Linked DNA regions of Homo sapiens. The protein of the gene in region 1 purifies or fractionates together with the protein of each later gene. This does not show direct contact. Each region holds a gene or a part of one and is shown in the gene's direction. Other genes may lie near its edges.

Region 1 (3,600 bases):
TGCCCATAGTAACGACTCAATACGCACGAACTATTATTATTGTAATACACAGTCAAAGATAATCCACAAAGAGCATACACGGGGATAAAAGAAAATACACTGAGTTTCTGTTTGTATTTTAAGATGTATTAATTTCCCCATGGGCGAAAAGTGACTGAAAGGGGCCACAAGACAGGCTTCTGGGGTGCAGGTCAGGTTGCTTTTTGGGTGCTGGTGACATCATGTGTGTTTGTTCACGTGTGAAAATTCATCCTGCTGTTCGCTTGCGATTTGTGCATTTAACGTGCACTATCTCCAGGGACCTTCGTGGTTCTGTGAAGCACGAAGGGCAAGCATCCTCATCCGCGGTTTCAAACAAGAAACTGAGGCTAGGACCGCTACTTTAATTTGGCCAAAGTAGTAGGGGATGGGTGTGAGGAAGTGTCTCAGTCCGATCTTTCTTTCGGGGAGCAACGGCCACTCTCAGAGAGCGCAGCGCGAACAGTACCTGGTTCCAGGTAAAGCTCAGCAAAGGGTTCTGAATCCTCCTTGCAAATGCCACCCTTCCCCCAGCGCACACAGACTCTGGGCACGGCCGGGGGTTCGCACCGCCGCGCACTCCCCAGGCTAGCTCCACGCGTGGTCACTCTCCAGGGAGACCCGCCCGCCGGCGCCCCGCGGTCACCGCGGGGGAATGGCGCCCAGCCCCGGGCCAATGAGAGTAGCGGAATTTCTTTCATTCAGCGCGGGGCCAGGCTCCTGCCCGGAAAGGGGCGGGGCGCCGCGCCGGGGGTGGGGCCGCCGCGCGCGGGGGGAGAGGGCGGGGCCGGCCCCTCTGCCTGGCCAATCGGCGCCGCGCCCGGGGGGGGAGGGGGGCCCAGGCCTTTTTTCCCCTCCGCGCGGGACCAATCCCGACTTTACAAGCTTGAACTTTTGCCACCCTCGGACTAGCGAGCGCGCCCGAGGAGGTACCCCGCCGCGCCGGCTCCAGGGGCAGGAGCGGCCTTAACCCTTCCCGCGCCGGGCGTCAGGCTGCTGCCGCCGCGCCCCCGATCCCGCCCCCAACCCACCCCCATTTTCGCGTGGAAACCTCTCTAGGGAAAGCGTGATCCCTCACCTACAGCCCTCTCCGAGGTGCGGAGAGTAAACTTGAGAAGGGAGAGGAAGCACCCGGCCTGGAGGGGGCCCGGCCGGCCGGCGGCCCGCCTCGCTCCAAGGGAGGGCCGTGGCGACCGAGAGGAGCCAGCGAGTAGACACTCCCCGCCTCTACCCCACCCTCTCCATCTCCCCACTCCGGGCGAGCCTGGAGCCACCGTACGCAAAGCGTCCTGAGCTCCCTGTTTGGCCCGGCAGAGCGACCCCCGACTTTGTGCAAGGAGCGTAGAGCCCCTAGTGCAGTCACGGAAGATCCGCTACCCCAACATATCCGCCGCCCCCTGCTCCTCAGAGGCTCAACCCTGGAAGGCACACATGCACACCCATTTTTATTAGCCTACCCTAGGATGGGGGTTTGGAACAACTTTAAAGTGCAAAGTGTGTTTGTAAGTTTGTGCACAAGCCAGGGAGAGGCAAAGCGCCCCGTTTGCGTCCGAGTCTCAGTGGGTCCGCCGAGCCTTGCGCGCCTGCTCGTGGCTCGTGTAACCCTGTGTGTGTGTGTGTGTGTGTCCGCGCGCGCGTGTGTGCTCGCTCGCATCCGTGCTCTGGGCGCAACGCGAGGCAGAAAGCGGGCCGCGGGCGCTGTCAGGCCCTGGGCGGGGGTGCCGGGGTGGTGTGGGGCGGGGGCCCGAGCTCGGCCCGCCCCGGGAGCCGGCCCCTTGGAGCCTCCGGCCCTGCAATGGGACGTGTTCTCCTTTAAGAGTTAAGAAACTTGAAACCTTGTTTGCGCAACAATCAGCGCCGCGGAGCCGCCAAAGTGTCTAGACTGGCATATGATGGGAGGCAGCCAATGACTCCGCGGCGCTCCTCCGGGGGCCCTCAGTGTGCGTTTGAGGAGAACAAAAAAGAGAGAGAGAGCCGAGCGGGGGAGCGATCGAGGGAGCTGAGCCGAGAGAAAGAGCCGCCGGGCGCTGCCTCGCCAGACCTCGCTGGGACCCCGGGGCCACCGGGAGGCACTTTTGTGGAGGGGGGAGGGGGGGCGACCTCGGCAGCCTCGGCGCACGAAGCGTCCGAGGGCAGCGTGGGGCGGGCTGCGACCTCTGCATCGGTGGACTGCATTTTTAATTAAGGATTCCCAGCAGCTCTTTGGGATTTTTACAGCTTCCACTCATGTGTTGACACCCGCGTCCAGGAGAAACTCGCTCCAAGTGCATCTAGCGCCTGGGACCTGAGACGGCGTTGGCCTTTCGTGCATGCAAATCCAGGGATTTAGGTTTTGTTTGGGATTTCCTTTTCTTTCTTTCCTTTTTTTTTTCTTTTTGCAGGGAGTAAGAAGGGAGCTGGGGGTATCAACAAGCCTGCCTTTCGGATCCTGCGGGAAAAGCCCATGTAGTTAAGCGCTTTGGTTTAAAAAAAAGGCAAGGTAAAGGCAGGGCTTTCCAGACACATTTAGGGGTTCGCGCGAGCGCTTTGTGCTCATGGACCAGCCGCACAACTTTTGAAGGCTCGCCGGCCCATGTGGGGTCTTTCTGGCGGCGCGCCGCCTGCAGCCCCCCTAAAGCGCGGGGGCTGGAGTTGTTGAGCAGCCCCGCCGCTGTGGTCCATGTAGCCGCTGGCCGCGCGCGGACTGCGGCTCGGCGTGCGCGTGTTCCCGGCCGTCCCGCCTCGGCGAGCTCCCTCATGTTGTCGCCCTGCGGCGCCCCTTCGACGACAGGCTGTGCGCGGTCTGCACGGCGCTCCGCGGCGGAGCTTCATGTGGGGCTGCGACCCGCGCAGCCGGCGCCTCGCTGAGGGAACGGACCCCCGGTAACCGGAGACCGCCTCCCCCCCACCCCTGGCGCCAAAGGATATCGTATGTTCAGGTCCAAACGCTCGGGGCTGGTGCGGCGACTTTGGCGAAGTCGTGTGGTCCCCGACCGGGAGGAAGGCGGCAGCGGCGGCGGCGGTGGCGGCGACGAGGATGGGAGCTTGGGCAGCCGAGCTGAGCCGGCCCCGCGGGCAAGAGAGGGCGGAGGCTGCGGCCGCTCCGAAGTCCGCCCGGTAGCCCCGCGGCGGCCCCGGGACGCAGTGGGACAGCGAGGCGCCCAGGGCGCGGGGAGGCGCCGGCGCGCAGGGGGCCCCCCGAGGCCCATGTCGGAGCCAGGGGCCGGCGCTGGGAGCTCCCTGCTGGACGTGGCGGAGCCGGGAGGCCCGGGCTGGCTGCCCGAGAGTGACTGCGAGACGGTGACCTGCTGTCTCTTTTCGGAGCGGGACGCCGCCGGCGCGCCCCGGGACGCCAGCGACCCCCTGGCCGGGGCGGCCCTGGAGCCGGCGGGCGGCGGGCGGAGTCGCGAAGCGCGCTCGCGGCTGCTGCTGCTGGAGCAGGAACTCAAAACCGTCACGTACTCGCTGCTGAAGCGGCTCAAGGAGCGCTCGCTGGACACGCTGCTGGAGGCGGTGGAGTCCCGCGGCGGCGTGCCGGGCGGCTGCGTGCTGGTGCCGCGCGCCGACCTCCGCCTGGGCGGCCAGCCCGCGCCGCCGCAGCTG
Region 2 (3,821 bases), on another chromosome or scaffold:
AATTGATAACCATTATGACAATCATTTCTTGATTATGTGCCATGCTCATGTGTTAAGTAGCTCTATGCGTGTTATTTATAGCAATTTATATATATTTTTTAATACAACATGTGGAAGCACTATATTAATTTTCTAGTTGAGACACAATTAGATTAAGCAATTGGCCAAATCTCTCAGCTCATAGGCAGCAGGAGGGTCAGGTTATCCATTAGGCACAGTAGACACAGTGCCTCAGGCTTATAACACTTTCGGGGGCCCATAAAAATGTTTTAATTTCTTTTAAAATCAGAAGGCAAAAAATTGAATATTTAGGTCAAAGAAAATATTTTAATGTATAATGTTAATATCTTTTTCTTCATACCAATGCAGTAATAAAATATATTTTGTAGTATTATTTTATGGAAGATGAGGCCCACACAGGTATAAGCACCTAGGGCCTGTGAAAGTCAGAATGTGGCACTGGGTGGCAGAGCTGTGTTTTGATGCTGGGCGATGTGATACCTGAGCCTATGCTCTTTCTGGAAGGTAGTTGCCAATATGTTTCAAAAGGGCTAAACTTGTTCATACTTTTTTATTACTTTTAATAATTTATCTAAGACAGTTAATAAGGACATGAACAATGGTTATGGAATACTATTTATAATATTGTTCATTTGAAACCAAACAGTCAATAACAAAAGGCTGGTTCAATATTGGGTGTCAGCTTGAGGACTAGGTGAGTACTAAGAGCTTCTGAACGGGGAGGAAATTGAGCAATGAGGGGAGCTGAAAGTGAGACACAGAGCAGGAAGAGGAGGCCTGCATGCATTCTGGAGAAGGAGTCCAGATCCCTGCTGGGGAATACCTACGGAATTTCTGAGGACGTGTTTGTAAGCACATTATTGCATCTATTTAAAGGGACCAGACAGCAAAAGCAAAAAGATGAAGAAAATCTTAGTACATGTTTAAAGCAGAGATGAGTGGGCACATATGGGGCACTGTGAAGAGTTTTTCATAACAGGAGAGATAGAGCATGTGAGCATCAAAGGAACCTTGAATATCACGTTAATCTTTGTCAGGAGAGCTCCGAAAAGCCAAAGAATGATTTTAAGCAGTGGAATGACACAGATGTATATTTTCGAATGATCTTTGTGGATATAATGTGCACCAATTTCAACTATGAAGCCAGAGGACAAGAACTAATGCATGGAGGTAGGCGGGAATGTGCATTGTTCAGTCAAGAGATACTTGTTGAATTCTGTACACACTCATGAAGTGTTGGGGTTGTTTTTGGTACACAGTTCTTTCAAAAAGCTCAGTTAAAATGGAAGGGGAGAGAGAACCAGAGGTTTTAAAATCAAGGGAAAATTTAGGACCTAATCTTAAAACGTGATTATGCTGAGGAGTTGTAGGCAGTGGAGAGGGTGAAGTTAAAGATGTGCCAAGGACCGCCCACAGTGGGGAGCAGGCAGTGGAGAGGAGCAGGGACATCTAGCCTCCGAGATAGAAGGAAAACTAGTAAGTCTGGGTGTGGACGTAGATATAATCTATGGGGGTTGGTCAGGTGGTTGGGCAAAAGCTGTAGAAATCCATGCCTGAAGGCTTCTGCTTCTCTGAAGTAGAAACCGGGTCACCTGGTAAGCAATGTGGTCCCACTGACTTCTATTTGCACATTGGCCTTTCTTCTAAAAGCAATACACATAACCAACAGTACTTTTCTAAACTAGTTGACTTTTCTGTAAAATGCAGACAGTAGACACTACTTTGTCAGATTGTTGTGTGCGTTAATTGTGCGGACACGTATACTCGGTCAATAAGTATCTGCTTTATCACCGGGCTGATGTGAGTGAGGACTAGGTGGTGGGGCTTCCACAGATGAACGTTTTGATTAATAAAAAATGGACTGAAAGTCTTCGGGTATGACCAATGGCTAAATGCAATTATTTACTCTTGCAATGTGTTCGAGGTCACCCAGCTAGGTCAAGGAGTATTTATGGACAGCCTACTTTTGCCCCCGGACCTTAAGAAGTCCTGCTCCGGGATCAGCCGCCGACCGGAAAGTCAAATTAGCAGTGCCCAGCGCGAGCTTAGAGCAGCCTCTTCCCAAATCTCAGCGGCGGCCCCGCCCCTTCCACACGTTCAGGCCCCGCCCCTCCCTACTATTGGCTGTCCGTCCCCCTCCGCTAGACTGCTCGGAAGACCCGGAGGAGCGGAGTTTTCCTAAGGCAGCATCCGAGCGCCCTCGCTGCGCATGCTCGGGGGAGGCGGATTCCGGGTCCGGAGTTGGAGGCTTTGGGCGGCCGCGGCGTAGCGCGCGGTGCCGGGGCCGGCGGGGAGGCGCGCGCTTAGGGCGCGGCGCCGGCGACGCGGCCACGCGGCGCGCTCCCGAGGAAGGGAGGTGTGGGGTCGGCTGGGGGTGGCGCGTGGACGGGGTGGGGGTGGGGGGAGGGTCGGGTGTCGGCGAGCTCCGCGTGCGGGTTCCGAGTGGCTGCTGGCGGCCTGGGCTGCCGGGGCCGACGCCTGGGTGGCTGCTGCCGCCGCGCCTGCTGCGAGATGGCGATCTTGGGCGCGGAAGGGTGAGGGCGCCCGCCGCAGGAGGAGGTGCCGCTGCCGTGGCCGCCCGGCTGCCGGGAGCCGACAGCTTCGCGCCGGGTAAGGACGGCGCGGCGCGGGGCTGGGGGTGCGAATGGGCAGGGCGGGAGGGGGCACGGGCCCTGAGCCTTGGCCGCGGTGCTGGGCGCCCGGCGCCGTCCGCCCCCGGGCTGGACCCTCCTAGGACCCGTCGGGGGACGGTCCGCCCTACCTTGGCTACCTTCTCCAGCCCGGGAGTCGGGAGTTTTCTGGGGTGGGGTCACGGGTCTTGCCCGGAGTTCGCCCTGGCAAAGGCCTGTGCCAGTGATCCTGGAGCGGAGCGAAGTGTTTCCGTGACTCTGCAGCCGCAGTTCTTAGGCTTCCTTAGCCTTCTCTTCGCCTTCCTCCACCTTTCCCTAACACCTCCCTGAAAACACAAATACATGGACTCATTGCCCGTTCCCTGACTTTCACCCCAATTTCAGCGTTGCAAACCAAGGACTCCAGCTTTGGAACGTCTTTTTCTGACATGTTTTTATCACTCTCCGTTCTTCACCGACTCTGCAGCTCCCCATCCCCCGCCCCCCCAGCGCAACCCCCACCTCCACCTTTTGTGACCTGGTAGGTTCCAGTGACCTTGCAGATTTTACCAGTCCTTATCTTGTCTGTGACTTACAGACTCTCCTTTCATCTTCGTGTTCTTTTTTTAAAAAAATTTAATTTTGTAGTTTGCTCCTTACCTTTACGACCTTTAAATGATCAGTCTTGTTCACAGTCCTTTCTTTGCTCTGCCGATTTGGAGTTTTCTCTGCTGTGGTAAATATATGAAACCTTCATTACCAAAGAAGAGTAGTGTCTGTTATAATTTTGACATTTTTACTCTTTCAGAATAAAATATTTTCCAGGGGCTTGATTTTGCCTTCTTTTTCTATTTGATAAGTTTAACAAATTTTTTTCTGTGTGTGTGTAGGTTAATGTGGAACAAGATTTTGTGTTTCTGCTTTAAAATGTTACTGGTAATAGTAGTGGGAAAAAAAATCATGTCCAAAATTATCTTTGTTTTCCCCGTTTGGTGTTTTTACCTGAAATAGTTGGTTTACAGTTACCTGCATTTTTTTTTTTTAACAAGAGTTCATGTTTATGTGTAAATCCACTTTACCTGCCTCACCAAATCTGTGTGTATTATACAAGCAAAATGCACCTTTTAAAGAAGAAAGTCGTTCTTTTATTGTGTGACTTGTTTTTAGCCATCAAGTAGTAAATTAGCTGCA
Region 3 (3,821 bases), on another chromosome or scaffold:
CAGTAGCTCAAGGAAAATACTTAAGAATAGTGTAATAGCAGATCATAGACTTAGGATTGAAAGAGTCTTAGCATGTCATCACACACATTAATAATATTAAAGATGAAGAGGATGAGGCCCAGAGAGTTTGAAAAACCATGCTCAGAAATAGAAAGTGAGGCTAGGATGGCTATGGAATTGAGACTTTACTTTTTTCACGGTGCCACAATTCTTTTCACTGGACTCATGTTTGACTTCTTTCACTAGAAGTGGGTAAATATGTCTATAATTAGAAGCTGTAAGTTTTACTCTAAACTCTGAAGATTTCTTTTCATGTCATCCAATAAAAGCCGTGCATGAAATGTATCACTTTGCAATAACTGATAATCATTTCTGATGCATGTAAGCATGGAGGTAACACCGATCTTTAAGAACCTTGACTCCTAAATTATTTCTATGTGGTAGGCATTGTTCTGGGTGATAACTGTGTTGGGCAGAATTACTATTTCTTACCTGCAAAGAAGATTTAAGCTCTCTGGACTTACATTTTCCGCTGTATAATTCTGTGTGTGTGTGTGTGTGTGTGTGTGTGTGTGTGTGTGTGTGTGTGTTGAAGGGGGTTAGGGAGAAGAAAAAGGAAGTTTGGACCAGATTAGTGGTTCTTTTTGAAGTTTTCTTCAGAGACTACCAGTTTAACTCCCAGAACAACTGCAAATTCATCTGTTTTACATATCAGACTTCCTGGTAAGCTTTTGTTTTAAAAAAGGCTAACACAGCTTTAAAAAAACTTGAAGACCACTTTACTTGTTGTCCTCCAGTCCCTCTTCCAGTTCTTGAATTTCATAATCAAGATCATTTTTAGCTTTTAAATATGGGTATTCAGAGGATGGTTGGTGAAAGTATTAAAGACAGAAGGAAAAACTGATTTTGCCTTAGAGATACTATTAATAATTTCAGGTTTCCATATGCTGAATTTTATATGATGGCAGAAACTGAAGTAGAATTGTTGAGATATGTATAGGCAGGCCAGAATTCAGGGAAAGGAGGGGTTGCGGCTAGAAAGGTAGATTAAAAAGTCGCTTATATGACTTAATAACTTAAATTGAGTGAAAATAAAACTTTTTAGGCATAGAGTACAGAGAGAAGCCAAGATTTAGGAGTAGACAAAAAGGACATTTTGTTATGTTATTTCTGGGTATTTTTAAAGCCCATCACAGTGGTAAGAAGGGATAATGTATAATTTACATCAGGCAATAATTTGTTTTCATGATGTTCAGGACATCCACTTACATGCCAATATTCTAATTACATTCATTTTTACTTAAATGTTTGAATGCCTACTCTGTGTGTGGCACTGTTATACACTGTGGGGACACTGTGACTATAAGAGACACAGATCCTTGCTGTCATTGAACTTGTAGAGAGTGAAAACACAATCAGCTATCCACAAACACATGAATAAGATTATTTCCAATAGTGAAATTTGCCATTAGGAAAACAAGACAGGGTGATAAGACAGCATGTGACTGGGCTATTTTATATGAGGTGGTCAAGGAAGGCCTCTGTAAGGATATTCTTGAGTAACAAGAAAGAGCCAACCCCGTGAAGATCTGAAAGAACTTCCTATCAGAGGACGCACTAGGGTTGTCTCTAAAAGTAGCAAGCTAGGCACTCACTGGCCAGGGAGGCTGGACTCAGGCAATTAGAGGAAGTGATAGGAATGAGGTCAGAGAGGTGGCGAGGTTCGTAGTATAAAATATGTATTTTATTCAAAGTACATTCTGTTGAACACCCTGGAGGATTTTAAACAGAGAAGTGAACAAATATGATTTAGCATGTCTGTATATAGTGTGAGCAAGAGTACCTGAATAAGGCCATGTGGGTGGCTATGAAAATGATGTAGCTGAGAGTTTGTTGGCTTGGCCAAGGGTGGAACCTTGAGAGATTGATCAGACATTGTTCTTATCGTGGAATAGAAGAATCATGGAGTTGAATCATCAGTTTTTGTTTTTTTTTTTTTGCGGGGCTGGGGGCTGGGGGTGTGCCAGGATCTACATTGCAGCAATTCACTGGTTCAATAGTTACTTTTACTTTTGAATTTCAGACCTCAGCACCTTCTTAGAGTTCCCAGATACCACTTCTTTACTTCACCTCAAATATCTCATGGGCTGCAAGCTTCTTCCACGTGAGAGCCTATAGTATGTCCTAGGAAGTGTTGCAGTAAGGTTCTTAGTGCTAGAGATGATTCCTGGACTACACTGAGACGCTTGGTTCTTTCTGAAAAGCAGAGTGGTGAGCATCCTTGAATGAGCATCTCTTCATTTTCAGTAAAGTGTGTCAGTATAAAAAAAGGGAAGTGAGGCAGAATTCCTCTAATTAGGTCTGAGTGTCATTTTCCTCTAACCCTCAGCTTTGGAAACTTTGGATGCTTCTTGAAAGAATTCATTATAAAGTCTGCATTGTTAGATCGGGATGTTACACATCATTGTACTCCCGCCCCTTGCAAAGTGCTAGGACATAGTAGGCATTCAGTAAATAGTTGTGCAGTGCTGTTGGATGCACTCCTTTAGAGGCCAGTAGTTTTGATTCAGCCAATTTTATTTTTTCCTGTCTTTCAACAAGGATATGGCTGCATGTGGCGTCAGCTTTGGAAGATATTAAGTAGCAAGTTTGGAAATGAATTTTCTGGAGATTGTATTTACTTATCGGCTAAAGGAAAAAAAAGATACAATCCAGTATATCTGTTTATAACGTTTCTTGCCTGGCTGTCTTGAGATAAACATTTTAGTCATTTTTATAGCAGTTAGATAGATATGAACTTAAACAAGTACAGACACATCTGTCACTAGTTAATTTGATGATTTACGAATGTAAAATGTTTCCAAGGAAGTCTGTAATGATGTTGCCTTTGTCTAAATTAATCTCTTGATAGAAATCAGTGAATTTTATCTAACTAGTACACTTTATGACCATCTATAAAATGTATTAAATTATCATCAATTCTTTTTTCTGAAACTAGCTACTTTTCTGTTTTCCAATACACATTTAGCCATGATAGTCCACATAATGGAGGATTGTCCTGAAATCCTTCCCTTTATTATGGAACGTGGTGCAGTGCTCAGATGGGCTTGCAGACAGTTGTGGCATCATTTCATTTTTATGTATCTAGTAATTTTCTTCCACTGTTTCTTTTGATCTTCTTCAATTTGTCAAGAGTTTCTTCTGTATCTGAATATTCTGTTTTGCCCCATTTTGCCAAAACTGTTCTTATTACCATTGGCTTCTATGTCAGATATATTTTGGTTGCCACTCCAGAACCACTCTCAGCCCTTCTACCTCATGCTGTCTGCAGGGAAAATAACCTGGATGAACAACTTTGACTTCCAAAAAACGTAGGTCACTGGGGAGCCACAGCAGAGAGTAGAGGGAGGGTGGGGAGTGAGGGTATTTATTTCCTTGGCTCCCTTTTTGTGAGATCAGTTTGGGCTGCCTGTATTCCTGCACTGAAAGTCATTGCTCTTCCCAAGGTATTCTTCTCTATATAACTCTTTCTTTCCAGATTCTGGTAATCTCGAATAACTTCCCTGCTTTTGCTAACCTGGATTTACTGCAATACCCTTGGGGTTCTTTTCCACTACTGCCCACACCCTGTTACATTGTCTGTTTATAAATAAATTCCCTCAGCTTATCAGGAGCTGTGTCAATTAAAGTCCTATTTTCTGTTGATTCAGCTTCTGAAAGCCTGCTCTTTGGAGTCTTCTTGGATTGATAAGAACAGTCGTACTCCCTTACCTGTTTTGGACATCTGCTTTCCACCCCAAATTATATGCTTCTGTCCATGA

What was found.
Region 2: the proteins of SMAD6 (region 1) and WWP1 purify together in Homo sapiens (affinity purification with western blotting; 3 studies listed by BioGRID, with this or other methods). This does not show direct contact.
Region 3: the proteins of SMAD6 (region 1) and BMPR1B purify together in Homo sapiens (affinity purification with western blotting; 2 studies listed by BioGRID). This does not show direct contact.

What each region holds. Positions count from the first base shown.
Region 1 is NC_000015.10:66,700,331-66,703,930, forward strand, and holds the start of SMAD6 (mothers against decapentaplegic homolog 6), read left to right. Parts: upstream 1-1,905; 5' UTR 1,906-2,928; coding exon 2,929-3,600. UniProt on the Homo sapiens protein: Transforming growth factor-beta superfamily receptors signaling occurs through the Smad family of intracellular mediators. SMAD6 is an inhibitory Smad (i-Smad) that negatively regulates signaling downstream of type I transforming growth factor-beta.
Region 2 is NC_000008.11:86,340,300-86,344,120, forward strand, and holds the start of WWP1 (NEDD4-like E3 ubiquitin-protein ligase WWP1), read left to right. Parts: upstream 1-2,247; 5' UTR 2,248-2,631; exon of another isoform or gene 2,632-2,977; intron 2,978-3,290; exon of another isoform or gene 3,291-3,361; intron 3,362-3,821. UniProt on the Homo sapiens protein: E3 ubiquitin-protein ligase which accepts ubiquitin from an E2 ubiquitin-conjugating enzyme in the form of a thioester and then directly transfers the ubiquitin to targeted substrates.
Region 3 is NC_000004.12:94,760,873-94,764,693, forward strand, and holds part of BMPR1B (bone morphogenetic protein receptor type-1B isoform b precursor), read left to right. Parts: intron 1-3,821. UniProt on the Homo sapiens protein: On ligand binding, forms a receptor complex consisting of two type II and two type I transmembrane serine/threonine kinases.